7 linked regions of the Homo sapiens genome follow. The protein of the gene in region 5 purifies or fractionates together with the protein of the main gene of each other region. This does not show direct contact. Each region holds a gene or a part of one and is shown on either strand. Other genes may lie near its edges. The genes, in order: GLCCI1, FAM83D, CUEDC1, MEX3D, ZAR1L, SECISBP2L and MIGA1.

Region 1 (3,590 bases), on a different chromosome or scaffold from region 5:
CTGGTCACTTCTAAGTTCAATTTAAAGATCAAATCTTATCCCTTTGAGATGCGCTTTGGAAGTGAACAACAGTCTGCTGATAAATTATTTCTCAGAGCGTTTTGTTCTTGCTTTCACGCTACCATATGGCCTACCAGACCATATCCATGTCTGGATAACTGGGCATGATGTCAACCCTCCTTTGTTTTGTAAAGCTTTTCTCCACCTTATTCTGAATCTAAACAAATAAAAAAGTAAAAAATTAAATTTTATTGCTGCAGCTTTGCTTGCAAGAAATATGCAACTTCCTCTGAAATGATTTCATTGAATTTAAACTCATTTCTATAAATTCTGAGGTATAAAGTGATGTGAGAACAATGTTTTCTCTATTTAATGTGATCATACCTGGGAACAGTACCAAGACTTGGAACTTAAGACCTCTAGCTTCTCACCTTGTGATGGAGAGTGTGTAAGTTAAATGCCAAGAGGAAGCCAGGTTGTAGAAATCTGATCCAGTTAGACACCCCACACCTCCAGACATGCAGGCCAGGAACTCAATGAGTACAGAAAACTACCATTAACCTGAGCTGAATTTCTCTCTGTCGGGTAACGAGCCAACAACCCCAGTCTTTCCAAAAACATGTGTGAACTATTTCAGTTTTACTAATAACTTTATTTAAATAAGACACAGGAACTTCTATACTGAAAAAATACAAAACAAAAGCCACACATTTCCTTGTGTAAAGCCATATTATATGGTAACTCAAATACTGTTCAGCGCAATGGCTAGAATTAAACAGTACAATTATATACAAAATTTAAACAATTTCTGACAAATTTCTACAGCTGGATGTAGGATACATTTGAGCTCAACAACTTCTGGGAAATTTACATGGCAAAGCGTAAGCTTTAACACATTTGGTTCAAAACTTTAATATATGCTAAGAACAAATGTACAACACAATTAATATTTAGTATCTCATGAGAAAATAAAAGCACATCACTATAAATATCGTACATGAGATTTCATCACCAAAAAAGCATATTCAGTCCATTTTTCTGAAATTGATATTGATACTATTGCATTTTATTTGGACAAAAGCAGAGTGTAAGATCAACATATTATGTAATGCTAAACCAGACATCAGAAGTCAAATGGAGCTCATATTTATCTTACGGAACTAGTAATTTTCCCCCTTTAACCATAATCTACAAAATATAGTATTTTCATCAAGGCCTGAGATTATTAGGGTTAAAGGTATCTGCTGCTGAAAAGATTGTTTTAAAAGGTTCCCCTGTGAAAATGACGAAAGTAAACTGAGTCCTTTTTTCCATGACAGTCTCCTACAATATAACACTGACTAATTTAAAGGAGCCAGAATGCACCTTCAGGAGAAAATATTACGACAAACTTTGGTGGAAAGAAGAGAATTGAGATCATGACAAAATAATGCACAGAATACACACACACACACACACACACACACACACAAACATATACATATATATATCATTTCTTAAAAAAAAAAATCAATGGTGTTGCTTTCTTCTCTATCACTCATCCTTCTTCAACCTTCTTAGAAAATAAAAGAAAAACCCAGGAATGAATGAAAGGAACTGAAACGTTCCTTTAACTGTAGGCACCTGGTTCCCCTAATTCTTAAGAAAATTGTGCCATACACTTTAGGCGCAGATGAAACAACTCTAGGTTTTATTGAACTGAAAGTAGTGGAATACAAAAACTTAGCTTTTGGATACTCTTTGTACTGAAGAAAACAATGAAAGTTAGGCTCTCCCATTGACCAATCAGGAATGCCTGGGGCTCTCTTCACACTTTGTGGAGAACTTGTGTCAAAAGTCTGCAAGTTCAAGGCTATTTTCTTGAGTTTATGCTCTACCTCACAGGTTGCAAATTTCAAAACTACTCATGATTATGCATTATGAGAGGCTTAAATGAGATAGCTTCAAACTATTGCTCTTGTAAGTCACCAAAAAAACCTGCTTATGTTGCATCAATTCTGAGACCCAAGTATTCTATGTAAATGAAGATCATGCACCTAAACTGCTTGAGGAAGACAATAACAAAAAGTATGTCACTTTTTCACCTGCAAAATAAAGAATTTCCAAGGGAGAAACTAAATATAAATATGTCTTTAGATAAAATGGTAACAGTTATGACCCTGATGGCTAACATAAACAAAAAAATCTCAACCATTCCGTCAAACACTTCACTTATTTTGAAATTAACTCTAGACATTCTTGTCTTTAAATTTCATCACACACAATGTGGAATGTTTATGTACAGTCCAGTACTGAACACTTTATTTGCAACATTGTCACAGTCCTTTACTGAGCAACACCTGAACTTTTAAAAAAGCCACATGTACACATGTTGAAACAGTGAATGCAACAGTTGTTTTACTTGTAACCACATGACAAAGTGATGTCAAACACCACAGATTTTGCTGGTTCTCCTCATGTTCACCCATGTCCAGGATTATCATTCTCCTAGGATTGAATGCACTTCTTATTCTAAGAATGTGGAATGTAATGAGGAAAGGGAAATGCATAAAATAAGGAAAGGCAAAAGAGTGATGTTCCCTCTTTAGCTTTTTAGCTGTGAAATATTTAATATCCCAATATGATATACATTCCAAGTTACCTGAGTTTAGACTTCAACTGAAGTACCTGAAGCTAGGCCATAGGGTGGGCACTGTGCAACTGTTGTGGCCATTTTTTTTTTTTTTTTTTTGCATTGTATGTATTACAGAAGTTAGAAACAAACACCTGGATCAATTGTAAACATAATCCTGAATTACAGTATTTTCCATAGGACAAAACACAGCAAGACATTTTCTATTTAGACAGGCAACTTTTTGATATAGAGCTTATTTATACTGAAGAATCTGGAACAAAACACAGGACACAGTACTAATCTGTCAAATATACTATGAAATGCATAGTCTCCACTTAAAATGCTGAATGACACACACGTTTTGCAAGCATTACTGCTTTCCACAAAAACTGCTGAATAGGAGTTCCGTCCCTGCCAAGATCAGTGTTTAAGAGATACTTTATGATGCTGATAAGTATTATTGGTGGTGGTGGTGTTCAGAAAGTTTGTCACTCATGCAGATGTCTGAAATCTTGTTCCGAATCCATGGAACATAGGGTGGAGGCCAGCTCCCCCTTTTTTAGATGATCACATAGTTCTGAGCAGAGATGTGGTCCTCACCCTGCAGTTCCTGCAGGAGCTGCTGCTGCTGGGATGGCTGCTGGACAGAGGCCTCCATGGAGCCCGCTGTGCTGGTGTCATCAGAAAGAGACGTAAAGGAAACCCGGGATGAGAGCTGCTCAACGGTCAGAGTTGCCAAAGCTGAGCTCTGGCCAGAGTTAGGGGAGTTCTTGAGCATAAGGTCAGAAGCAGGTAAGAGGGGGCCTAGAAGTTTTACAGGACAGAAAGCTGATCCGGTTGGGATGAAATTAACCTTGTTTTTGTCAGGACATGAAAAGAGAGGGGCCGAGATAGGCTGACGAGACCTAAAACCATAAAACAAAATTAGATTTATAATCATGAACACAGAAAAAGTTAAGCATTTTCTGAATTAACT
Region 2 (4,197 bases), on a different chromosome or scaffold from region 5:
CTTGAACCCGGGAGGCAGAAGTTGCAGTGAGCTGAGATCGTGCCACTGCACTCCAGCCTGGGCAACAAGAGCAAAATTCCATCTCAAAAAAACACAACAACAACAAAAAAACAAATTCTGTAATAAATATGACAATTTTTCTTTCTTCTTTCCATGAAAGTGACCAAGCTAGCTATGTTGTATAGGCTTCCACTGAAACACTTAGGTCATTTTCAGAATCAGAGAAATAGACATAAAATCTAATTTTACAATAATGAGAAATGAACAGCAGCAGCATGTAATAGTGATTACAGACACTGGGGTTGGAGGCAGACATACAAGGAGGCAGACCCTAGGCCCACTACTTTGAAGTGGTGGACACTTGGATTCTCTGTGTCACTATTTCCTGGTCTAAAACACAGGTGCCACTTACCTGATAGGGGCTGCTTTGAGGATTCAGTTACATAACATTTGTTAAAAGCACAGAGCAGGCTGGGCATGGGGCCTCATGCCTGTAATCCCAGCACTTTGGGAGGCCGAGGCAGGCAGATCATCTGAGGTAGGAGTTCAAGACCAGCCTGGACAACATGGCAAAACCCCATCTGTACTAAAAATACAAAAATTAGCCAGGTGTGGTGGTACGCACCTGTAATCCCAGCTAACTGGGAGGCTGAGGCAGGATAATCTCTTGAACCTGGGAGAGGGATGTTGCAGTGAGCCTAGATTGGGCCACTGTACTCCAGCCTGGGCAACAGAGTGAGACTCTATCTCAGGAAAAAAAAAAAAAAAGCATGGAGCAGTGCCAAAGACAGAGTGGGGGCTCAAAAAATACTGGTTGCTGTGATTAAAAGGGCAGCCTCCTGGAGCTACTGTCAAAAGCAGCAACTTCCAGGGTGGCCTTCAGGCCTTCAACAAGGGAGCTGGTCCAGGCTCTATTAAGAGGCAGGACAGTACAGGGGAGAGGCCAAGGTCTTGAATCCTAACATTTCTTTTAAAGAGCTTAACTGAGATCTAATTCACAGATCATACAATTAACACAAATTCTGTAGTTTTTAGTATATCCACAGATATATGCAACCATCATCACCGTTAGTCAATTTTAGGACATTCTCATCAGTTTAAAAAGAAAGTGCTAAAATAAAGTACCCTTTAGCAATAATCCCGTCCTTCCCCCAACTCCCCAGCCCTAGGCAACCACTAATCAATGTCTCTATAGATTTCCCTATTCTGACTTAATGGAATCATATCATATGTGGTCTTTTGTGACCGGTTTCCTTCACTTAGCACGTTTGCAGGTTCATCCATGCTGTAGCATGTATCAGCACTTCATTCCTTTTTATAGGTGAATAGTATGCTATTGTATGAATAGACAACATATCATTTATCCACTTATCAGTTGATTGGCATTGGATTGTTTCCACTCTTTGGCTTTATGAATAATGCTTCTATAAAACTCACACATAAATTTTTGTGGGGGCCCATATTTTCATTTCTCTTGGGTAGACACCTAGGAGAATTGCCAGGTCACAGGTACTGTTTGTTTTCTGTAAGACCAGGCAAATGACTTTGCTCACAGCCTCAGTCCCTTCCTTGTAAACAGGGATACCGCCACCAGCCAGCTTGTAGATAATGGATGCTTGGTCATATTTGTTGACTATGGTGAAACTGGATATAGTGTACCACAAACCTTTTCCTGTTCAGGATGAACTTTCAGATCCATGCACATATCCAGAAATTGAGAGAGGAGAGCCTGGTCCAGAAGGATATACACAGCAACTCCCTGTTTCCTGCATATTTCTTGCAGGTCTCTGAAGATGTCGATGTCTGTGAACACGTCCATGACCACTGCAATCACCTACAGGTGAAACAGGGAAGAGCACATGATAAGCTTATAGGACACCACCTTACAGCACGCTCTCTGGACTCTGGACTCCACTCAGAACTGGGAAATGATCCCTATCCAACAGTTATCCTTCCCTCCCCCTTCTGCAGTGTTGGTGCCCCCCTCACCATGGACTCTTTTGCATCTCCAAAGACACTTGGGCCCCGTGTCCTAGAAATCTTGACTTGGCCTAGCTAACACTCCCAACTCCATGCTGGGAGGTTTCTCAAAAATACAGATCAATCCACTGCCTTGCTCTCTTATGAACCTGCTCCATTCACCTTCTATTCCTCCACTAAACTCCTGTCTTACAGGCTTATTCAGATCAGCAAGCTGTCTGGTTCTGTGGGTAACACACTGTCATCTTTGGCTTGTTGCTTTCCCCACCAGGCTTCAGTTTGCTGTCCGTTAAACAAGTAAATAAAACCTCAGATTCTCTCTGAGGGCCCTTCTGGAGGGTAGCATTCTCGAAATCTATTTTTTAAATTATTGTCTGGTTTTGAATCATAATCTCTGACTTTTTTAAGGCCTGTCCCATTCACCACCAACTCATGACTCGAAAGCAATCGAAGCAGGCCCATGGATTCTCCCTTCTTCTGCCTCCCTAACACTGCATACCATATTTGTTAACATTCTGTTCTTTCTACCAGCCAGGCCTGATCAGCTGTCTGTTGGGCAGGTTCTAACCAAATGACTTCCACTGCACTGGCCTCTCCTCAGTAAAAGGTTCTCTCTGCAGTTCTTTGGTATCCGTCCATAGTGCAAGCCCACAGCAAAGAACAGGGAAATATTTCCTAAGGATTCTGCCCTTAAGCTCAGAACAGGCCTTTCTTCTCCCCAACAACATGGCTCCATTCATGCCTCCCAAGTGATTTTCCACACCTAGCATCAGACTACAATTAAGAGCTACCTTTTAGCCATGCATTCCTGGGCAAATTACAGCTGTTTCAAATGTCTGTTTCCTTAGCTGCAAAATAGGGTTGTATCGAGAACTAAATGACTATGTTACATAAAGTGCAAGGTACAAAGGATCCCTTAGTATCTGCTCGTTTATTCACTTTACCAGTCCAGAGCTGGAGCCGTCCAGACAGTTCAACACAGGGAGACACCGCCTAGCTTTCCTCGCTCTTTTAAAGACAGGCTGCTCCTGCCACAATGCCTCTAATCACACCTTTTGCAGGCTTAAAACCAAGGTCCTCAGCAAACTCCTGGCAGGGCAGTGGGGGTGTCCAAACCTCCAGGCTTAGAAACAGGTCCTGACAAACTGAGTCAGAAGTTGGGGGTGTTAACTAAGGAAGCCGAGGCTTGGGGGCTCTTCTGTAGTCTGGAGATATAAGGGTTTCTCCTTCCTCCCCATTTCCACAGTAAAAGCCTGTCTCTCAGAATCACATTAACTCTTTTTCTGAAAGTTAGGATTATTCATTTATGGGTTTCACTCCTTCTCCTGCAGCAAAGGCTCTTGAATGGGATTGAGTCATTTCTGTGGTCCCAGAGGACTTAGGACAGTATATGACAGTCATGACTCCTTAAGGATTTGGGGGATTAAAGAAGGAATGAAGAGGCAAAAAGGCAATTTGGCTGTCTTTCTCCAACACTCCAGGGCCTGGTCTACTAGGATGTGAGACCCTGAAACACCAGTTCCTGGGAAGTCATTGCTGTGAGGGGGTTGAGAAGACCAGTTACTCTCCTGCTGCCTTTCCCACCCCACCCCTTTTAATGATGGTCTAAGCTGTGGGCTATTCTTGGTAAAGGGCATGGCTGAAACCCACTGAACACAGTGATTTAAAAAATGAGAAGCGTTCTTTCTGAATTTGTGGCATCCTCTGAAGTTTACATCCTCCACTGGCTTTACACATCCTATTTTGACAGTTCTATTCATCCCACTCATTCGGGTCATACAACAGGAATTAAAGGCAAAAGTTCTGGGCATAGAACCCAGCTCTACCACCTACCAGCTGTGTGACCCTGGGCAAGTGGCTTAATCTCTCTGAGCCTCAGTTTCCTCCTCAGGAAGACAAAATTAATAGCATCTGGGTCAAAGGGCTGCTGTGAGGATTAAGTGAAACAAAGCATGGAAAGGGCTTAGCACAGGGAGGGCAAGGCAGGAAACAGGTGCTATTATGCAGCCAGCACCTCCTCAGAGCACGCTGTGGGCTGCACACTGCACTAGGCAGAAAGATGGCTATGAGGAATTTGACATAGACCCAACTTACCTCAAGGAGAGGACACAGGATGCAGAGAGGCAAAATGATATATACAGCCTAAGCAATTAAACTAAGGGGGCCGGGCATGATGGCTCATGCCTGTAATCCCAGTGCTTTGGGAGGCCGAGGTGG
Region 3 (4,197 bases), on a different chromosome or scaffold from region 5:
CCCACAGCCATGTGTGAATGAGGCTGCGATCCTTTCAGGCTCCATTTCAAGGAAAATCTCGGATTAGTCATGGAAATCCCAGAACCAACTTTGGAGGTGGCTAGGGGAGGGGCGGGAAGGCGGTGGCGGCGGGAAAGCGAGCCAAGATGCGTTGCAGTGTGTTGCAGCTGGGGAGGGAATACTTGGATCTTGAGCCGCCTGCGGTCCCTGGGCCTGGCTCAGGGTGTCCTGTGCTGCCCCTGCAGGCTGACCCAGGATGTAGCCTCTTGCTCCTGGGGTGGCGTCCTCAGGGGTCTGCGATTCCTGTCATCTCTCCCTCCTCAGCTCCCACCCTTGCCTGCCCCCTGCTCCCTCTCCGGGGGGCCTTGGTCCTCCCCTGGCCTTTCCCACACCTGGGAGGAGGCCATCTGGTGTGCTGGCTGCTGAGAGAATGACTCACAGGTCTCTCTGCCCCCAGCCACCCGGAGGAAACTGTTTGAACTTGCCCGAGCCTTCTCAGAGAAGACCAAAATGAGGAAGTCAAAGAGGAAACACTTGTTGAAGCATCAGTCGTATCCTTTCCAGCCTGGCACTGGTGGGGGTGGTGGAAGCCAAGGGCCATGGAGCAAGACCCCTGTTGGACTCCCTGCAGCTGTGCCCTCCCCTGGGAGTGGAACCCGGCTCTGTGGCCTTCCCTTCCTCCTCCCCTCTCCTCCATGAGCTTGGCCACCAGTCCACTGCCCGTCTCTCGTTGCCAACCAGGGACCAGGCCTAGGGAGCAGGGCAGCAGCTCCTGTCTCCCTTCTGTAGGCCCAGAAGTTGTCCTATTAACTTTTTTTTTGGTCTGAGGTTATGTACTTCTTGGGAGAAAAAGTGGTTCTTCCATCAATATCAAACCTTCCCTTCATTTCTCTAGTTGAACTGGTGCACGAGTCCTCCTCACTCCAAGCATGTTGGCCCTCCCTTCCTCGAGTAGAAATACGGCTTTCCACCTTTTTATCAGAACTCCTATTCATGCTTCTCAAACAGGGCCTAGGATAGCAGAGGCTCAGCAGCCAGAGGGAAACAGGGAGGAAGCTGTTTCTCCATCCCCAGAGATGTAAGCTGGGCGAGAGTGTCAGGGCCTGGCCATACCACTGACCTCAGGAAAATGAGCCTGGGGGACAGTACTAAGGGTGTGGGGGGTCAGGTGGGTGTGTCAGGTACCTCCAGAGCTTTGAGGGGTGGGGCAGAGAGTCAGTGGGACTGGGAGGACTAGGGCAGTGTCCCCTCATCCCTGGGACGGTTTTCCTGAATGGCCTGGCAGGCTGGGGGCTGCCGCGTCAACAGCCAACCTCCTGGATGATGTGGAGGGCCACGCGTGTGGTGAGGCTGGAGGGGAGTCGTAAGCTCCAACTTCTCTATGATCGGTGATCTCCCAGCGGAGTTCCTGGGTGTTTCATGGGAGCACCCGCCCTGTCCCCTGGAGGAACACACTGAGGGTTGGTGGGCAGGTGACCCAAAGATATGGATCCCCCTGACTTGGTCGACATTGCTTCCCCCTTTCTGCAACCCCTGAAAAGGGGCCCTAGCCCTACTTCCACCTAGATGTGTACCTGTAGCATGAAGTGCCAGGTACTGTTTCTGGGGAATATTCTTTTGGGTGTGAGGTGGCAGACAGGCCTGCCCCCATGGGGGACCCTCGGCCTGAGAACCAAGCACTGGGCAGCTTCAGTCTGTGGGCCCAGAGGCTTCTCAACTTTCACCCAGTCCCTTCCAAAGGCCACGTGGGCCAGAAGACTCTGCCTCAGACCCTCCTGGGCCCGCAGCTGAACCCTGATCCTCATGCCACATTCGAGGGTCAGGAGGCATCCAGAAACAAGGACTGGAAGGGCCTCAGAGGTCATCTAGATAGTCCAGCTTTTCCATCCCATTTTATAGATGAGGAAATTTGAGGCCCAAAGACGAGGGGAGAACTTGTCCAAGGTCTCAGAGCTCAGTGGTGGACCCTGGCCAGCACCTGAGTGTCCTGCTGCCTCTCTCCCTGGACCCATGCATCGTCTACCTGGGGGGATCTGCATGGGTCCCAAATGAAGGGGGCAGAGAGAGTCGGGTCAGCTCTCTTGCCCAGTCTAGGGGCCGTGCCTGAGCGAGGCCCTGCAGGGTAGAGGATGAGGCAGCTTCCCTCTCCTTTTCAGATGAAGACTTCCGGGGCAGGCGTCAGGAGGCACCCAAGGTGGAGGAAGGCCTGCGAGAAGGACAGTAAGAGGTAAGGCCTGGAGCCATAGCAACCCAGGGACTGCCCAAGGCCAGGGCCCCCCACACTATGCACCCCACATGTCCTCCCAGGTGTCCAGAGGCGCTGGGCTCAGGCAACTGGGTAGCACAGGCCCCACGTGTCTTCCCTCATAGTTGCGGCAGGGACACGGGCGTGGGAACTAGTTCATTGCATGTCTTTTTTGGTTATTTATTCATTTGACAAAAGATGAGCACACCTGCCTATGACAGATGCTGAGAACAGGAAAACAAAATCAGCTTTGACCTTGAAGAGTTTACAGTCCAGTTGAGAAGACAGTCCAGGACACACGTAGCACACTGAGAGGATGATTTAAGAAAAACTGGCTGGGCACGGTGTCCCATGCCTGTAATCCCAGCACTTTGGGAGGCCAAGGTGGGTGGATCAGCTGAGGTCAGGAGTTCGAGACCAGCCTGGCCAACATGGTGAAACCCTGTCTCTGCTAAAAATACAAAAATTAGCCTGGCGTGGTGGCAAGCGCCTGTAATCCCAGCTACTTGGGAGGCTGAGGCAGGAGAATCACTTGAATCTGGGAGGCGGAGGTGGCAGTGAGCTGAGATCGCGCCATTGCACACCAGCCTGGGCGACAAGAGTGAAACTTCATCTCAAAAAAAAAAAAAAAAGAAAAAGAAAAACTGAGGTGGTCTCAACCCGGCTGTGCACACACACAACTCTCTCCAGCCCCCTGCTTGGGTTGGGTGGGCTGGGATCTGCCACACCAGGATGAGGAAACCCTCCTGAGGCAGCGGTTTCTGGCTGAAGCCCCAGGGCTCCAAGCCATTTCTCCTCCTCGCTTCCTGTGCACCCTCTTGGGGAGAAAAAGAAAATACCAAGGCCTCCTCCAGGAGTTGGCCAAGACAGCTGTCCCTTTTCCAGCCCCCGTTTACCATGGGAGAGGGGAAGCTGCCCGGCCTTCCCCAGCCACTTGTTTGGTCCCAGTGGGCAGCATCTACAAGGCTTTCTTGAGTTGATGGTGTGGCAGGTATGGCCCTGTGTCAGACGATGGAGAAATACTCACTTGCCTCAGGATAGTCACAATGGAGGGAAACCGGGAACAAGTAAATACAAGTGCCCTCTCCTCTCTGCCTGGGCAGCTGGCCCCCACACCCACTCCACCTGACTCCCTACCACATCTCCCACCAGGCACTGCAGCCCCTTCTATTCCCCTCAGGCTTTCCTCAAACACAAAGCCGCGGCCCACTTCCCACTGTCCTGGAATGCCCAGATAGAGCCTGCCGGGGAATCGCCTCCACTGTCACCCCACGCTGCTACTATCTCCACGCCCTTCTCCTTCCTACTGGTCCCCAGGGAGAACGGGTCCTGTCCAAACCACCCCTACATCAGAAACTTGCTCATCATTCATTCATTCATTCATTCATTCATTCATTTTGAGACAGAGTCTCGCTCTGTTGCCCAGGCTGGAGTGCAGTGGCACAATCTTGGCTCATTGCAACCTTCACCTCTCAGGTTCAAGCGATTCTCCTGCCTCAGCCTCCCGAGTAGCTGGGATTATAGGCACCCACTATCTTGCCTGGCTAATTTGTTTTTGTATTTTTAGTAGAGATGGATTTTTGCCATGTGGCCAGGCTGGTTTCGAACATCTGACCCCAGGTGACCTGCCCGCCTGGACCTCCCAAAGTGCTAGGATTACAGGTGTGAGCCACCGTACCTGCACCTCATCATTTATTTCTGTCCTAGGACTTCCAGCTTGTCCCCTTCCAGCTCCTTCTGCAAGTTGACATCCTCCTCCTCCTCCCCTTAAACACCAAGGGTCCTTGAGTCTTCCCTGCCATCCTCCTTCATCCACTGCAGGCTGACAGCCCCTCCCATCACTCGGATTGACTCGGAGGTCACCCAGCAGCTCAGGGCCTTAGCATCTTCTGCATTCTTATGGTGCTCTTCCACACGCACTCCCCTGATCTCTCCTGAAGCTGCCCTCCCTT
Region 4 (4,197 bases), on a different chromosome or scaffold from region 5:
TGTGGGCACCAGGCTCAGCCCCCACCTCTGGCCTGTGCGTTCTGCACCCACTTACTGGGCTCTTGCTGGTGGCCGTCAGCAAGGCAGGCCCTGGGGTACAGTGGGGGTCGGGGGTAGAGTGGGCCCTGATTGCTTGTCCTGCAGGCCGCCGTGGCCCTGCGCAGATGACGGCCCCTCTCTGTGATGTGCGGACGTCTCACCTCCATTAGGGTAGAGGATTCTGGGGCAAGATGCTGGTTTTATTTATTTATTTATGAGACGGAGTTTCGCTCTGTCGCCCAGGCTGGAGTGCAGTGACGTGATCTGGGCTCACTGCAAACTCCGCCTTCTGGTTTCAAGCAGTTCTCCTGCCTCAGCCTCCTGAGTAGCTGGGATTACAAGTGTGAGCCACCACGCTCAGCTGATTTTTGTATTTTTAGTAGAGACGGGGTTTCACCATGTTGTCCAGGCTGGTCTCGAACTCCCGACCTCAAGTGATCCGCCCACCTCCACCTCCCAAAGTGCTGAGATTACAGGCGTGAGCCACTGCGCACGGCCAGTTTTATTTATTTGTTTTTATTATAAAGTTTTTCTTGTAGAGACAGGGTCTTGCTCTGTTGCTCAGGCTGGTCTTGAACTCCTGGCCTCAAGCGATCCTCAGCCACCCAAAGTGCTGGGGTTCCTACAGGTGTGAGCCACTATGCCTGGACCCAAGTTGCTGGTTTTAATCCCAGCTCCAGGTCACACACAGTGGCCACCCCATAAGTGGAGTGCGCGTTGCCAGGGATGCAACTGTGGATGCCAGGACAGGTTGGCAGCTTCAGTAGTCCTTACGTCTTCCACAGCTTCGGTAGTCTGTACTTCTTCCACACTGTAGAACCATCTGTGGCTCCCAGCTTCTCCCACCCACCCCGTTCTCAAGCATACCTTTCAATGTCCTTTGTGCCCCGGCCCTGCCCCTTTACTCACCTTCCTCTCCACCCTGGGGCTCTCTGAACTTCTCATGCTTCTCTGTCAAACCCAAGCTCCAAGGTTACCCCTTCCCTGGAGGCCAGGAAGGGTGCACCTGTCCGGCCTCCCCACCTAGACAAGAGTCACACAGGCCTGGCACCAGCCCTCTCCCCAGTAGCTACGTGCTGTTCTCTGAGCTTCAGTTCTCTTGATCCTAGAGGGGGTCCGAGTGCTTTCTGGGCAGACTGTGGTCATTCAAACCCTCTGAGTTCCCACCCATCTGCTGGAGGCTCCAGTTCATTCATTTGCTATATCTTTTTTTTTTTTTTTTTTTGGGATGGAGTCTCGCTCTGTTGCCCAGGCTGGAGTGCAATGGCACGATCCCGGTTCACTGCAAGCTCCACCTCCCAGGTTCAAGCGATCCTCCTGCCTCAGCCCCCCTAGTATGTGGGATTACAGGCACGTGCCACTATGCCCAGCTGGTTTTTGTATTTTCAGTAGAGACGGGGTTTCGCCATGTTGGCCAGGCTGGTCTCACACTCCTGACCTCAGGTGATCCACCCACCTCAGCCTCCCAGAGTGCTGGGACTACAGGTGTGAGCCACTGCGCCTGGCCATTGGCTAGATCTTTATTGAGGGTCTACTGTGTGCTAAGCCTATGCCAGACTTGACCTGCCCCATCTCACTGAGGCCCATAATGTGCCCCAGGAAAGGTCCTGCAGCTCCCAGGTCACAGATGGGGAGGCAGAGGCTGCAAGAGGTAAAGAATAGGTAAAAACTGAGGGGATAGCAGCACTCAGAGAGGCTGAGGCAGGAGGATCCCTCGAGCCTAGGAATCGAGACCAGCCCGGCCAACATGGCGAAACCCTGTCTCTACAAAAAAAAAAATACAAAAATTAGGCATGGTGGCACACTCCTGCAGCCCCAGCTACTCTGGAGGCTGAGGCAGGAGGATTACTTGAGCCTGGGCGGTCGAGGCTGCAGTGAGCTATGATCTTGTCACCGCTCTCCAGTCTAGGCAACAAAGCAAGACCCTGTCTCCAAAACAAAACAAAAATCATGGGCTGGGATTCAAACCCAGTTTCTCTGGTGGGTCAGCAAAGAAAATTTCAGATTCCAAAGCTTGAGGGCTGGGGGTGAGGGGAGGCAGCCCTGTCTGGGAGACAGGCAAAGTGGAGACCCAAAAGCACAGGCGTCTCCCTCCAGCCGGCCAGCAAAGGTGCTCTAGGGGACCTCCGGCCCTGCTCCTGCTGAGACCCCAACATGTACCCTCCTTTCTCACCCCGCTTGCCAGGCACCCTGGGTGAATCTGTGCTCCGTGGCAGCCTCTCCCCCTGCATGTTCCCAGGGACAGGAACCAGGGCAGGTGCTTGGTCATGGTTGGGTCTTCAGTGTCTTGCCAGGGCCTGTACACAGAAGGTGTTCTGTGGCTAATGAATGAATGAATGAGTGAGTGATGTTGAAGGCAGGGCCTGGACTGGAAGCTGCTCAGGGCTCGCTCTCTCTGCTGTCGGCACAGGCTAAGGCTAGTGATTTTAGGTTGTTCCCCTCAGCTGGGGGCGACCCCTGGCTCACTGTCTCCCCTCCTGTCCCTTGTTCCTGGCTGCAGCCCCAGAGGCTCCTCTTCTCCTCCCATCCCCGCAGGCCCCAGGTTTTCCCGACAGCTGGGGACAGTGCTGGGGTGTTGGTGGGGACCATGCCATGGTTTTCCTGTCCATACACTGCAGAGCCCTAGGAAGAAAGGCTCTGCTAGGAAACCTCCACACTGCAGACCCAACTGAGAGTTCTGGCGTTAGTACAGTGTACATGTTCCCTTCATTCCCCGAGAGGTTTTTTTCTTTTCATTTTGAGACAGGGTCTTGCTCTTGTCGCCCAGGCTGGAGTACAGTGGCTCAGTCTCGGCTCACTGCAGCCTCCACCTCCCAGGTTCAAGCAGTTCTTTCACCTCAGCCTCCCGAGTAGCTGGGATTACAGGTATCTGCCACCACCACGCCAGGCTCATTTTTGTATTTTTAGTAGAGACGGGGTTTCGCCATGTTGGCCAGGCCGGTCTCGAACTCCTGACCTCAGGTCATCCGCCTGCCTCCACCTCCCAAAGTGCTGGGATTACAGGTGTGAGTCACCACGCCTAGCGGTTTCTTGTTGTTGTTGTTTTGTTTTGTTGTTTTTGAGACAGGGTCTGGTTCTGTTGCTCTGTCCTGAGTGCAGTGGTGTGATTGTAGCTCACTGCAGCCTCAACCTCCTGGGCTCAGACGATCCTCCCACCTCTGCCTCCCAAGTAGCTGGGACCACAGGTGCGCACCAACACACCCAGCTAATTTTCTTTTCTTTTCTTTTCTTTTGAGGCGGAGTCTCACTCTGTCGCCCAGGCTGGAGTGCAGTGGTGCAATCTCGGCTCACTGCAAGCTCTGCCTCCCGGGTTCAAGCGATTCTCCTGCCTCAGCCTCCCGAGTAACTGGGATTACAGGCGCCCGCCACCACGCCCGGCTAATTTTTGTATTTTTAGTGGAGATGGGGTTTCACCATGTTGGTCAGTCTGGTCTCGAACTCCTGACCTCGTGATCCACTGTGCCCGGTCCACACCTGGCTAATTTTTTTTTTTTTTTGAGACGGAGTCTCACTCTGTCGCCCAGGCTAGAGTGCAGTGGCGCGATCTCAGCTCACTGCAACCTCCATCTCCCAGGTTCACGCCATTCTTCTGCCTCAGCCTCCCAAGTAGCTGGGACTACAGGCGCCCACCACCACACCCGGCTAATTTTTTGTATTTTTAGTAGAGACGGGGTTTCACCGTGTTAGCTAGGATGGTCTTGATCTCCTGACCTCGTGATCCACCCATTTTGGCCTCCCAAAGTGCTGGGATTACAGGTGTGAGCCACCGTGCCCGGCCACACCTGGCTAATTTTTAAAAATTTTTTGTAGAGGCCGGATATGGTGGCTCACACCTGTAATCCTAGCACTTTGGGAGGCTGAGATGGGAGGATCACCTGAGCCCAAGAGTTCCAGACCAGCCTGGGCAACATAATAAGACCCTGTCTCTGCAGAAAAGCTTTAAACAATTAGCCGGGGGTGGTGGTGCATAACTGTAGTCCCAGCTACTCGGGAGGCTGAGGTGAGAGGATGGCTTGAGCCCAGGAGGTCAAGGCTGCAGTGAGCTGTGACTGCACTCCAGCCTGGGCGACAGGTGACACCCTTTATAGAGACAGGATCTTGCTATGTTGCCCAGGCTGGTCTCGAACTCCTGGCCTCAAGTGATCCTCCTGCCTTGGC
Region 5 (4,651 bases):
GCAGCGTGTCTTAAAAATTTCAAAAAATGTTGGCCTCTCTTTGGATCCAATAGGCATTTTTACCTACGATATTCCTCCAATGCTTGGTAAATAAGTCTGCAAAACAGAAGACCAAAATGCACTTACACAGGGATGCATTCCTTATTATGTGACTGAGGTAAAACTCAGAAGCGCTGGAAAATTTGTTTGAATTCTAATTCAGTCCCATCTCCTGGAACGGTAACAGCTTACTGTGAGGATGGGAACATTTTACAGCTGTGCTGTCCAAACCGGTGCCACTAGCCACATTAAGCACTCGAAACGTGGCTAGTGCGACTAGAGAAGAGGATTTTCATACGATTTAGTTTCAATCACGCTAACCAGTGACGCGTGGCTAGTGGGGACAGAGGGCTCCAGTTAGAGACCAACGCCGCCTGGTAATTCCCATCAGCATGTCTTCGGAATACAGCAATTACCAGGGGCTTAAGTAAGGCAAATACAGCGTGCCCAGCAGCTGTAAAACACTTCCCCAAAACAGCAATATTCCGTTAAAGTGATCGTGTTTCCAAGAAATTTCAGATGGCGTCATCTGGGACAGCTGGGAGGGAAGTTAAGTCTTGAGCTGAAGGCGGAGCCCAAAGGCCGGGCCGGAGGCGGGAAATGGAGACCCAGGGAAGGGGCGGGGCTCGAATTTGCTTGGCGAAAATCTGCCTTCGGGCAAGGACCTTTCTCTCAGGCATGGGTGGGGGTTGGCAGAGACAAAAGGGCAAGAAGCCGCGGCAGCGACCCGGGGCGTGAGGCGCTCCCCCGCCACGCTGGACTGGGACTGCGGAAGACGCGCTCGTCCCAACCCACTACCACCACCACTAACCCGCTCCAGAGGTGCAGTTCTTTTTTGGCCGGAGTAAGCTGACAAAAACCGCGCCGGTCACAAATCTGTCCCCTCACGCTTCTCCCGGCGGCGACCCACCGCCGCAAAAGACACCCGAGGCGCAGCAGAGGCGCAGCAGTGCCACAGCGGCTCCGCCTCTGCCGCCTAGTTTCAGAAGCTCGCGCCACAAGCCCGCGCTGGCCACGTGACGCCGTGACGCGACACGCAGCACACGCACCACCCGGAAGTCAGGCCTGGGTGGGCCGCTGCGGGTATTTCTCAGTGTGGCGAAAGGAAATTCCTTGTCAGGCATCCCAACCGTCAGTATCTGACCGAATAAAGCGGGAGCTGGAGTGTGTGTTCTCTTCTCGCTGACCCTTAAGAGTCCCAGGCCACCCTGCTTGGAGGGGCCGCCCCTATGCCTACTCCAAGTCCCCCATCCCTTTCTTTTTGCTCCAGCTCATGTTTGGGTGGGCGCCCTCGGGACACGACCTGGGACCTATGAAATACCTTTGTTCTGACCTTAAAAGGGATGTTCTCTCAAGACCTGTTCCCCAAAGCGAGCCGATCTTACAAAAGCTTAGAGTGGTCGGTGTGTGGTTGTGGATGACTTCACTTAGTGGTAGTGGGCGGGGCTGTTATTTGAAATCAGAGGATTTTAGTTCCAGTAGCTGTTCTGCTATTGGGTAGCAGGTGTTCAAGACCTCCGAGCCCGTTTCCTTGCTTGAAAAATTGTGAAACCCATCTTAACTCGCTCATGAAGTGTGAGGTACCTTGCTCCGCAGGGCTTGGTAGTATCTTTTGCTTTTTTTTTTGAGACGGAGTTTCGCTCTTGTGGCCCGGGCTGGTGTGCAATGGCGCAATCTCCGCTCACCGCAACTTCCGCCTCCAGGGATCAAGTGGTTCTCCTGCCTCAGCCTCCCGAGTAGCTGGGAATACAGGCATGGGCCACCACGCACGGCTAACTTTGCATTTTTAAGTAGAGACGGGGTTTCTCCGTTGTTGGTCAGTCTGGTCTCAACCTCCCGACCTCAGGTGATCTGCCTGCCTCGGCCTCCCAAAGCGCTGGGATTACAGGCATGAGCCACCACACCCGGCCCATCTTTTGCATTCTTAGGATTCGGATCACCTGTCTTCCTCGCAGGCTGAACTGGAAGACCTGACTTCATCTCCGAATTCGTTGGTTCTGTAACATGCCTAATACAAGGCTGAATAGGGTTTGTTGTAAGACCTACAAAACCTTCAAATGGATTCAGTGAGAGTTGCTCCCATGGGGGCCTTGCTGCTTCCAGAAGGTGCTTGAGCAGTAAACAGAAGCAACCTTGGATTAGGAAAAGGGTGGGCTCCGCTTGGTTCCTTAGGGACCATTTTAGTTTGATAATCAGTAATCCTTAGTTGTAGAAGGAGGCCTTACTAATGCAGATAGATTCTAAAGCTTTTGCTCTAAGTCTAATTCGCAAAGAAATACGTCTGTGATCCTTACTAATAACAGCTGCCACTTACCAAACATTTTATGAGTTAGGCATTCTGCTTTGGGTTTTCAAGCAATACCATGTTTAATCTTACAGTAATCCTGTAAATTGGTCAGTATTGTCAGATGAGGATACTGAATCAAGTAGTTAAGTAATGTGCCTGGTAGTAAGGCCCAGGTTTGAATTCTAGTCCATTTGACTTCATACACTTAACTAACCTGTGATTTATTTACCCTATAAATCAGAACAATATGCTTTGTCCCCTTTTTGTGGGGGAGGGGTGTCTCACTAGGAGTGGACTAATGAGAACCCGTGGCATGTCACACAAGTCTCAGAAATAACATTTTCTGTCATTTTATACAGCCCCCCATACCTTTATGTTTCTTGTTCTCTTTGTACCAGGGACTTGCAACTTATTAGCTCCACCATAATAGACTTTCTCACCTATTCTCTTCTAGTGCAGCTGCTCAATTTACTATTTGTATTCAATTTACAATATGCTTTAATTTTTCTTAAAAACATTATTTCCAGCTGGGCATGGTGGCTCACGCCTGTAATCACAGCACTTTGGGAGGCCAAGGTGGGCAGATCACCTGAGGTCAGGAGTTCGAGACCAGCCTGGCCAACATGGCAAAACCCTGTCTCTACTAAAAATACAAAAATTAACTGGGTGTGGTGGCATGTGCCTGTAATCCCAGCTACTTGGGAGGCTGAGGTGGGAGAATCACTTGAACCCCAGAGGCGGAAGTTGCAGTGAGCCGAAATCATGCCACTGCACTCCTGCCTGGGAGACAGAGCAAGGAAACTCCATTTCAAACAAGCAAACAAACAAAAACCCAAAAAACCATTATTTCCTAAAAGTTGTATATATTTAATGTGCACAACATGTATATGTACACAGTGAGATGATTACTATAGTCAAGCAATTAACATATCCATCTGTTCACATAATTACCTTTCTTTTGTGTGCGGTGAGAGCACCTGAAATTTCTCTTTGAAACTTTTCAGTATAAAATACAGTATTGTTAACTGTAGTCGTTATGCTGTAAATTAGATCTCTAGACTCATTCATTCTACCTAACTGTAACATTTTAGGCTCTGACCAGTCTCTCTCCATTCCCCCCAACTTCCTGTCCCTGGTAACCACCATTCTACTTTCTGCTTCTATGTATTTGACTTTTTCAGATTCCACATATCAGTGAGTTTATGCAGTATTTTTCTATCTGGCTTATTTCACTTAGCATAATGTTCCCCAGTTTCACCCATGTTGTTGCAAATGGCAGGATCTCCTGTTTTTTGTTTGTTTGTTTGTTTGAGACGGAGTCTTTCTCTCTCTGTTGCCCAGACTGGAGTGCAGTAGTGTGATCTCAGCTCACTGCAACCTTTGCCTCCCGGGTTCAGGTGATTCTCCAGCCTCAGCCTCCCGAGTAGCTGGGATTACAGGAGCGTGCCACCATACCCGGCTGATTTTTGTATTTTTATTAGAGGCAGGGTTTCATCATGTTGGCCAGGTTGGTCTCGAACTCCTGACCTTAGGTCATCTGCCTGCCTCGGCCTCCCAAACTGCTGGGATTACAGGTGTGAGCCACCGCGCCTGGCCAGGATCTCCTGTTTTAAGGCTGAATAATATTCCATTGTATAAATACATGCCACAATTTCTCTATCCATTTTTCTGTTAACAGACACTTAGATTGTTTCCATAACTTGGCTATTGTGCATAATGCTACAACGAACAAGGAAGTGAAGGTATCTCTTCAGGATATTGATTTCATTTCCTTTGGGTAAATACGCAGTGGTGGGATTACTGGATTATCTGGTACTTCTATTAACTTTTTTAAGGAACCTTCATACTGTTGTCCATAATGGCTGTACCTTAAAACATTATCTAACATTACCACATTACCTTACAAAGGATCTTTAGAATGGTCACTACAGGAATATATGAATTAATCACTAATTAAAGCATATGTGTGAATAAGCTGGAAATGAAAAACAGCTTTGAAAAAAAGATTCCCGAACAGTGAAGAGGTAGGGAAAAGCAATTAGGTAGGAATCAGGTGGCAATTAGACATCTGTAGATAGAGCTTCTCTCCCTCAATCAGGGTAATAAGCAGCAGCTCCCATTAGAATCTGAAATAAATGGAGAAGCCAGGAATGAATCTGAACCAACCTGATGAAGAGAAAGAAGGGGCGGATGAAGGAGGAAGGCAAAATAAGGACCCAAACAAACTGGCTAGGATATTAGACTGCGCCTGAGCACCTGAGAGCGGATGGAGCGCTTTGTCCGTGTTCCCTATGGCTTGTACCAGGGTTATGGGAGCACAGTGCC
Region 6 (3,851 bases), on a different chromosome or scaffold from region 5:
GGGCACATATAAACACAAGTAGTATAAAACGAAAGTCTCAGAGATTGAGGTGATGTTTTCAGAAAGCACCAGATTCAAAGTGTTCAAAGATTGAAGCCTTGGTTTTTCTATACTCTGCCTAAAGGTTTTAGGTGTAATCAGTTAATCTCGGGGTCTTGGATTTCTCCTTAGAAAAAAAAACTGTTGAAATGTTAATGTGCATCTAAAATTTTTAAACATTTTGTGCCTTTAAAATTTTTTTTCATAATTAAATATATGTGGGAAAATTTTCACTTACTAGACTGTTTTTTTTTTTTTTTTTCCCCAGCACTTACTATATACCAGTCATAGGGACACAGAGATGAGCTGGAGTGGAAGTGAGGAGGGATGAGGAAGGTGAAACAGCAAACACAAAACAAGGCTTTTGACTGTATATGTAAAAAGTACTGTGGGAGTTCAGGTTAGCGATTGCCTGTCAGGAGTTAGGAAAAACTTCATGAAGGAACTAACATTTAAGAGTGGTTATCAAGATGAATAGGAGTCTGAAGGGGAAAGGAGGAAAACACATCTGCAGAAAGAGTACAGCTGATGTTCCAACTTTAGGGAACAGTGAGAATTTAGATGACACTGAGCATGGAGTGTGTGGCCTATGGCGCAGGGTCAGAAGGCAGTAGGACCAGAATGATAGATAAGGGCCAGATCATGAAGGGCTTTGCTGTGCCACGCCAGGGATTTTGGATTCTATCCTAGGGTGATAAAAAGCCAGTTAGACAATGATATAATCAGTTCACAAAACCGGTTACGAAGATGTTACAAATGAACAGCAAGAAAAAGAAGGCCTGAGCTAAGGGAGTAGTAAACAGATTTAGTAGTTTTTGAGCTACAGGTGTCATGGTATAGTGATGAATTCAGTGGACTAAAGGGATATAATACTAATAAGAGAGAAAAGTAGGATCAAGTGTTACTATAAGGTGTCTTCTGCTTTGAGATTGTGTAAATGATAATGTCATTAGCTGAGAATGAGAATATAGGAGGAGGTGATTTTTTTTTTTTCATAAGGTAGAAATGACAGTGGAAAGGACTCATTCTACACTAAAGTAGCTTCAGGAAAGAAATTTTTTCCCAAACAATGTATCCTGACTTGAAGTGCCCAAAACATGTTCTATATCAATATATAGGCCATAGATGGTGACCATATTGAACATACTAATGTGAATAGGTTTGCTACAACTTGATAAGAATATTATACCTATAAACTGCAAATAGTAGCTGTAATGTCAATATGATAGAATTTTTATTTTTTAAAAAAATTTGAAAAAATACAGGGGTGAGAGATCTTTACTGATTCTTGGTACTTTTTTTGCCTTCAACTGATTTCCTATCATGAGAAATAATTTAGTTTGTCATCACTGTAGTATATAATACTTTTTTTGTCCTCCAAAATCACTTTGTAAGCCAAGCTATATATATATATATATTATAAAACAACCTTTCACAGATGTTAGAAATGCATGGATGGATTCTTTGCTTATAATTGGAAACACATGTCCCATTACAGGCCAAAAGATAATTTAAATAACTTGCTGAGTGAGCATGGTACAAACACATGAATCAGAACTATTATTGCTGGACATCTTGGCTCTTCTATCTCTTGGGTTGTGGGTCCTTGAGCCCATTACACCTCTAGGCTACCAAAAAGTTAGGCAGTTTATTGATTTTCATGAATATATGGATTTTATTTGTGAATGCCAGTGAGCTCCTATTGGTATAAGATCTCTTGCATTCTGAAGCGTTAATATACTTATTTTTACCTCCCTGTTTCTTTATCTTGAATGTACATTTTTGGGAATTATTTTCCCTTTATAACATTTAAATTAGGTTGGGCACAGTGGCTCACACCTGTAATCCCAGCATTTTGGGAGCCCAAGATAGGAGGATAGATTGAGCCCAGGAGGTCAAGGCTGCAGTGAGCCAAGATCATGTTGCTGCATTCCAGCCTAAAAGAGCAAGACCCCATCTGAAACACACACACACACACACACACACACACACACACACACACACTCTCTCTCTGTCTCAAACTAGTACTAAATAAACTAAATTTGTAGTTTTTCCAGTCAGTTTCTAAGCCAACAAATTTATATATTTTGTTGTTCTTTCTTTTTTGGGGGTTTTTAAAGAGTTGCATGATTTTGAAACAGTGTTCTGGTTTTTAAAAAATCTGCTTGATACTTGTAGAAACAAATTGGAGAAACATGGTGGAAACTTCAGATGGACTGGAAGCATCAGAAAATGAGAAAGAGGTATCCTGTAAGCACAGCACTTCTGAAAAACCCAGTAAACTTCCATTTGACACACCCCCAATTGGTAAGCAGCCATCATTAGTGGCTACAGGCAGTACTACCTCAGCTACAAGTGCTGGGAAATCCACAGCAAGTGATAAAGAGGAAGTGAAGCCAGATGACCTGGAATGGGCCTCACAGCAGAGTACAGAGACTGGCTCTTTGGATGGCAGTTGCCGAGATCTTTTGAATTCCTCCATCACCAGCACCACCAGCACTCTTGTACCTGGCATGCTTGAAGAAGAAGAAGATGAAGATGAGGAGGAGGAGGAAGATTATACTCATGAACCCATATCTGTAGAAGTGCAGCTCAATAGTAGAATTGAGTCTTGGGTCTCAGAGACCCAGAGAACTATGGAAACCCTTCAGCTTGGAAAAACCCTTAATGGTTCTGAGGAAGACAATGTAGAGCAAAGTGGAGAAGAGGAAGCAGAGGCGCCTGAGGTGCTGGAGCCAGGGATGGACAGTGAGGCATGGACTGCTGACCAGCAGGCCAGTCCTGGGCAGCAGAAGTCCAGCAACTGCAGCTCGCTCAACAAAGAGCACTCTGATTCTAATTACACAACGCAAACTACGTAACTCAGGAAATGTCGGCTCTCTATCTCCAGCTGTGGAAGGGTTGCAGCCATTACCTTTTATGCTTCATCTCAACATTTTGCACTGTCCAGTATTTAATATACGTATTTAATTCCCAACAAATATTTTTGTAGCTTTTACTTGTTATGATCTGTAGCTTAGCTTTTAATTAGTATCTAAGTGTCTTTCTAAGAACTGTGTGGAAAATTCAGATCTGTTTCAGCTTATTTTGTAATCAAAAACAGTGATAAAAAGAAGACCAGATCTTAAAGAAAATAAATTTCAAATGCTTACTTAAAAGACATTTTGAAAGTTAAAGAACAAGGTTCTAAGGATAGAAGCAGTTATCAGTGTTTGCTTCAGGACTCCACCTCCTCTACTCTAATTTGACCAAAAAATTGTTTGGGCTTCTTTAAAAAAGAACTGGGGGTGGAGTCAGAAAATTAAATGAAAGGCTGAGGGTAACTAAGTCCACCAGTGTTGTATGTTAAAAAATCAATGCAACTTTTATGTGGTCCACAAATGTTTAGTCAGAAGTCACTGATTATTGTAATTAATTAGTGTTGGGATGGGCTAAAACAGAGCCTTCAAAACTTCGGCTAGCAGTGGAGCCACCATCTTAGATTATAGCTAGCTAGCCTCATTTGTGGAAAGTGATAGATGCTGTCTATAATAGTGAACAGTCACCCATGATAGGACCTCCAGGTTCTGTCTCATATTTGCTTCTTACTTACCTCAGGAATGCTCTTGTACATAGACTTATTTACAAAAAGCTAGGCACATGTTGACAGGTGAATAACTGTAACCGATTGTATGACTGCTGCACTTACATGTAAACTCTTCAGAAACAGAGTCTTATACTGGTGTGTTCTCTTGCATGCTTCTGGTTCAGGACTCTTGATTTGAGATATGGATTTGATTGAGTATCCAAACTTGTCCTGAGTGCAAAACTGT
Region 7 (4,197 bases), on a different chromosome or scaffold from region 5:
AGGCATGGAGCGCATGCCTGTAATCCCAGCCTGGGTGGCAGAGCGAGACTCCGTCACACACACACACAAAAGGAATGAAATCCCAGCACTTTGGGAGGCCGAGGCGGGCAGATCACTTGAGGCCAGGAGTTTGAGATCAGCCAGGCCAACATGGTGAAGCCCTGTCTCCACTAAAAATACAAAAATTAGCCAGGCATGGTGGTGCATGCCTGTAATCCCAGCTACTCAGGAGGGTGAGGCAAGAGAATCACTTGAACCCAGGAGGTGGAGGCTGCAGTAAGCCGAGATCGTGCCAGTGCACTCCAGCCTGGGTGACAGAGCAAGACTCTGTCTCAGAAGCAAAAAAAAAAAAAAAGAGTGAGTTTACAAGCAGCTGAAAGGCCTTCTAGGCAGAGAAAACAGTGGATACAACAAATACATGAAGACTTAATTTTTCCTTTTCTAGTGTTCCCTTATTCAGGAAATGAAATCAGTATCCATTTACTTCTGCAGGCCAGCAACCTGAGACTCATCCTTCACCTCTCCCTGATGCTCACCCATTTTATCATATTCATCTCTAATTTTGTCAGTTTTAACTCCTAAATATCTTTCAGTTTCTTCGACTTTTCTCTCTTTCTGTCACCCCTCTTGGCCTAAGTGCCTGTTGTCTTTTCTCTGGGCTACATCAGTAGTCTTTATATTTCCCGATTCCCTGCTCACTCCTTTCCTCCCTGCATTCATTCTTTCCCCTGTTTCATTCTCCACATTTCTGCCAAAATGATACAGCACACTATACTTTTTCCTTTATTGTGCTTCACACAGTTCATAATTGGATATTTGCAGGATTATTTTGTTGCTGTTTTCCCCACTATACTCTAGGCGTCTAATTTGCTTACTCTAGAAGTTTGAGCACTTGGTACAGCATGTAGTATGTAGAGTGTGTATGTATGAATGAATGAAAGAGCAAGATGTTCATGATCTGGTGGGGAAGACAGGCACATATACCAGTAACTAAATAACAAGGCAGAATGAGCATCCTGGATGTTATAATAGAAGCGTGAACAAAGGACTCCTAGAATAGAGAGGAGGAGAGATTATTTTCACTTGAGATCTAGGAAGGAGCAGCGATAATGTGAATTCGTAATTTCTAGTGGCGAGCTTTCATATTTATCTCTCCTTTTATTTTTTATTTTTGAATAAGCTGATTAAAAAAAACCCCTGCTGTTATAAAACCATAAAGCCCTGGCTCAGATTTTATTTCAGCTCTATGTAATAATAATTTCTGTTTCAACTCATAATTTAATGCAGGTGAAAAATCTAAATTTTTATGATGTTGTTCTGGATTTTATATTAATGGACTCCTTTGAAGATTTGGAAAACCCACCCACATCCATACAGAATGTAGTAAATAATCGATGGCTAAACTCATCCTTCAAAGAAACAGTAAGTGGTGGTTAACCTTTCTCAGCCTTTTAAGTTTGATTAAAAAGTGAGGCTGGGCGCAGTAGCTCACGCCTGTAATCCCAGCACTTTGGGAGGCCAAGGCAGGCGGATCACCTGAGGTCAGGAGTTTGAGACCAGCCTGGCCAACATGGTGAAACCCCATCTCTACTAAAAATACAAAAAAAAAAAAAATTAGCTGGGCATGGTAGCGGGCACCTGTAATCCCAGCTACTCGGGAGGCTGAGGCAGGAGAATTGCTTGAACCTGGGAGGTGCAGTGAGCTGAGATTGAGCCATTGCATTCCAGCCTGGGCAACAAAAGCAAAACTCCGTCTCATAAACAAACAAACAAACAAAAAAGTGGTTGGCCAGGCGCGGTTGCTCACACCTGTAATCTCAGCACTTTGGGAGGCTGAGGCAAGTGGATCATTTGAGGTCAGGAGTTCGAGACCAGCCTGGCCAACATGGTGAAAGGCTGTCTCTTTTAAAAATACAAAAATTAGCTGGGTATGGTGGTGGGCACCTGTAATCCCAGCTACTCGGGAGGCTGAGGTGTAATAATCGCTTGAACCCAGGAGGCAGAGGTTGCAGTAAGCCGAGATCGTGCCGCTGCACTCCAGCCTGGACAACAAGAGTGCAACTCTATCTCAAAAAAATGTCAAAACTGGGTAGATTGTTAAGATTTACATATACATCTGTCTGTGAAATAATGTATGGAAACTGAGCTCATCCTTTGATATTCAGCTCAGGCATATACGGCATAACATCTTCAGATGAAATTCTCTTTTCAGCTTCTGTTCTTTTCTGTTCTCAAACCTGTTTGACATTGGTTTTTGTTGGGCTTTAAGTGTGCACCTGGAAGCAAAGTAGGGTGGATATATTTTATGATGCAGTTTGGATACCTTTAAAAAAATGTTCCAGTTGGCAATTTCACAATTATTTTGGAACTTACTGATATTAAACTTAAAAGCATTTTAAATAAATTCATTTTGCCTCAATTAAGTATGTTTTAATAATAAAAGGTACATGTTCTCCATTTCTGTAACTGATTTGGTAAAGTGACCTTGATCAAAGCTGGGTCATGCCAGAGTGGGGTCAGATTTTTCTTTCTTTTTTTTTTTTTTCCTTCCTGGAATCACCTCCAAGGGTCAGATTTCTTCAGGATCCACTGGGTGCTTTTGTCCTGTCATGGTTGTATTTCCTAGTTCTTTATTTGGATCAAACTGTTAGCTCTATTCACAAATATTCCAATAGTACTATTCTTGAAAAAAAATTACTTTAGGCCAGGTACAGTGACTCATGCCTGTAATCCCAGCACTTTGGAAGGCCGAAGCAGGCCGATTACTTGAGCTCAGGAGTTTGAGACCAGCCTGGGCAACATAGTGACACCTCGTCTCTATAAAAAAAATACAAAAATTTGCCAGGTGCAGTGGTGTGTGCCTGTGGTTTCAGTTACTCAGGAGGCTGAGGTGGGAGGTTCACTTGAGCCTTGGAGGCGGAGGTTGCAGTGAACCGAGATCACTCCTTTGCACTTCAGCCTAGGCAATGGGAGTGAAACCCTGTCTCAAAAAAAAAGAAGAAGAAAAATTACTTTATTATTACACATAGAATATTTATTTGTGTATGTGAATTCTATATACACATATTTTCACTTTTTTCCCTTAAGGAACAGAACTTTAAAACTCTGAAAATTGAATCTCCTTTGTTCCAGAGTGCAGTCTTTTTCCTTTAGTGGCTTTGTGTTTAATTTTTTAAATATTATTTTACTTTTTTTTTTTTGCCCTTGCAACATACAACTTTGCTCATGATTTAAAAATTTATAAAAATGAAATACCTTTTCATTAATATTTTCAAACAATGTGAGGACCCTGACTAGTTTTGTTTTTTGTTTGTTTGTTTGTTTTGAGACAAAGTCTTGCTCTGTCGCTAGGCTGGAGTGCAGTGGCGCGATCTCTGTTTACTATAACCTCCGCCTCCCGGGTTCAAGCAATTCTCCTGCCTCAGCCTCCCGAGTATCTGGGTCTACAGGCATGCGCCACCATGCCCAGCTAATTTTGTTTTGCATTTTTAGTAGAGATGGGGTTTCACCGTCTTGGCCAGGATGGTCTCCATCTCTTGACCTCATGATCCACCCGCCTCGGCTTCCCAAAGTGCTGGGATTACAGATGTGAGCCACTGTGCCCGGCCGACTAGTTCTTATTAGTAATGAATGTATTGAACGTTTTAGACCCATAAACTTTGAATTTCTAATAAAAATGGAAATGTTTATATAGCTATATATAAATCTTTCTTTTCTCTGCATGTATTTAGGCTGTGGCTTCAAGTTGTTGGTCGGTGCTGAAACAGAAAAGACAACAGATGAAGGTAAAATTCGTTATGTCCTGAATTCCTTTGTTAAATCATTTAAGGATTCTGTCAAAGCAGCTTCTGAGTCACTTCTCCGGTGGGAATTGGCAGCTGTAGGAGGGGTAGGAGGGACTGTCCCTCAGGCTAGATGAGTGACTTACTGGTAGTGGGTTGGCTTCTTTTTTGAAGGCCTTCTTTCTCATCCTTAGTATTGAGGCATGCATGGTATTTCAGCTAACTGGGAGAGGGGTTTCGAGTTGGAAACAGCTCTGATAAGTTTTAGGTTTTTGTTTTTTCTCTTAATGATATTAATTTTTTTTTTTTTTTTTTGAGACAGTCTGTCTCTGTTGTCCAGGCTGGAGTGTGGTGGCGCGATCCTGGCTCACTGCAATCTTTGCTTCCCGGGTTCAAGCGATTCTTCTGCCTCAGC

The links.
Region 1: the proteins of ZAR1L (region 5) and GLCCI1 purify together in Homo sapiens (affinity purification with mass spectrometry; one large-scale study listed by BioGRID and IntAct). This does not show direct contact.
Region 2: the proteins of ZAR1L (region 5) and FAM83D purify together in Homo sapiens (co-immunoprecipitation; 2 studies listed by BioGRID and IntAct, with this or other methods). This does not show direct contact.
Region 3: the proteins of ZAR1L (region 5) and CUEDC1 purify together in Homo sapiens (co-immunoprecipitation; one large-scale study listed by IntAct). This does not show direct contact.
Region 4: the proteins of ZAR1L (region 5) and MEX3D purify together in Homo sapiens (co-immunoprecipitation; one large-scale study listed by IntAct). This does not show direct contact.
Region 6: the proteins of ZAR1L (region 5) and SECISBP2L purify together in Homo sapiens (co-immunoprecipitation; 2 studies listed by BioGRID and IntAct, with this or other methods). This does not show direct contact.
Region 7: the proteins of ZAR1L (region 5) and MIGA1 purify together in Homo sapiens (affinity purification with mass spectrometry; one large-scale study listed by BioGRID and IntAct). This does not show direct contact.

Annotation. Positions count from the first base shown.
Region 1 is NC_000007.14:8,086,122-8,089,711, reverse strand, and holds the end of GLCCI1 (glucocorticoid-induced transcript 1 protein), read right to left. Parts: intron 3,520-3,590; coding exon 3,174-3,519; 3' UTR 632-3,173; downstream 1-631.
Region 2 is NC_000020.11:38,939,596-38,943,792, reverse strand, and holds part of FAM83D (protein FAM83D), read right to left. Parts: intron 1,835-4,197; coding exon 1,667-1,834; intron 1-1,666.
Region 3 is NC_000017.11:57,864,504-57,868,700, reverse strand, and holds part of CUEDC1 (CUE domain-containing protein 1), read left to right. Parts: intron 1-457; coding exon 458-551; intron 552-1,008; exon of another isoform or gene 1,009-1,078; intron 1,079-1,285; coding exon 1,286-1,344; exon of another isoform or gene 1,345-1,363; intron 1,364-2,156; coding exon 2,157-2,224; 3' UTR 2,225-2,227; intron 2,228-4,197.
Region 4 is NC_000019.10:1,561,600-1,565,796, reverse strand, and holds part of MEX3D (RNA-binding protein MEX3D), read left to right. Parts: intron 1-4,197.
Region 5 is NC_000013.11:32,311,867-32,316,517, reverse strand, and holds the start of ZAR1L (protein ZAR1-like), read left to right. Parts: upstream 1-1,154; 5' UTR 1,155-1,203; intron 1,204-1,372; exon of another isoform or gene 1,373-1,441; intron 1,442-1,967; 5' UTR 1,968-2,188; intron 2,189-4,424; 5' UTR 4,425-4,592; coding exon 4,593-4,651. Other genes in the region: BRCA2 (breast cancer type 2 susceptibility protein), read right to left, coding at 1-57. UniProt on the Homo sapiens protein: mRNA-binding protein required for maternal mRNA storage, translation and degradation during oocyte maturation.
Region 6 is NC_000015.10:48,991,293-48,995,143, reverse strand, and holds part of SECISBP2L (selenocysteine insertion sequence-binding protein 2-like), read left to right. Parts: intron 1-2,217; coding exon 2,218-2,900; 3' UTR 2,901-3,851. UniProt on the Homo sapiens protein: Binds SECIS (Sec insertion sequence) elements present on selenocysteine (Sec) protein mRNAs, but does not promote Sec incorporation into selenoproteins in vitro.
Region 7 is NC_000001.11:77,862,607-77,866,803, forward strand, and holds part of MIGA1 (mitoguardin 1), read left to right. Parts: intron 1-1,287; coding exon 1,288-1,422; intron 1,423-3,731; coding exon 3,732-3,785; intron 3,786-4,197. UniProt on the Homo sapiens protein: Regulator of mitochondrial fusion: acts by forming homo- and heterodimers at the mitochondrial outer membrane and facilitating the formation of PLD6/MitoPLD dimers. May act by regulating phospholipid metabolism via PLD6/MitoPLD.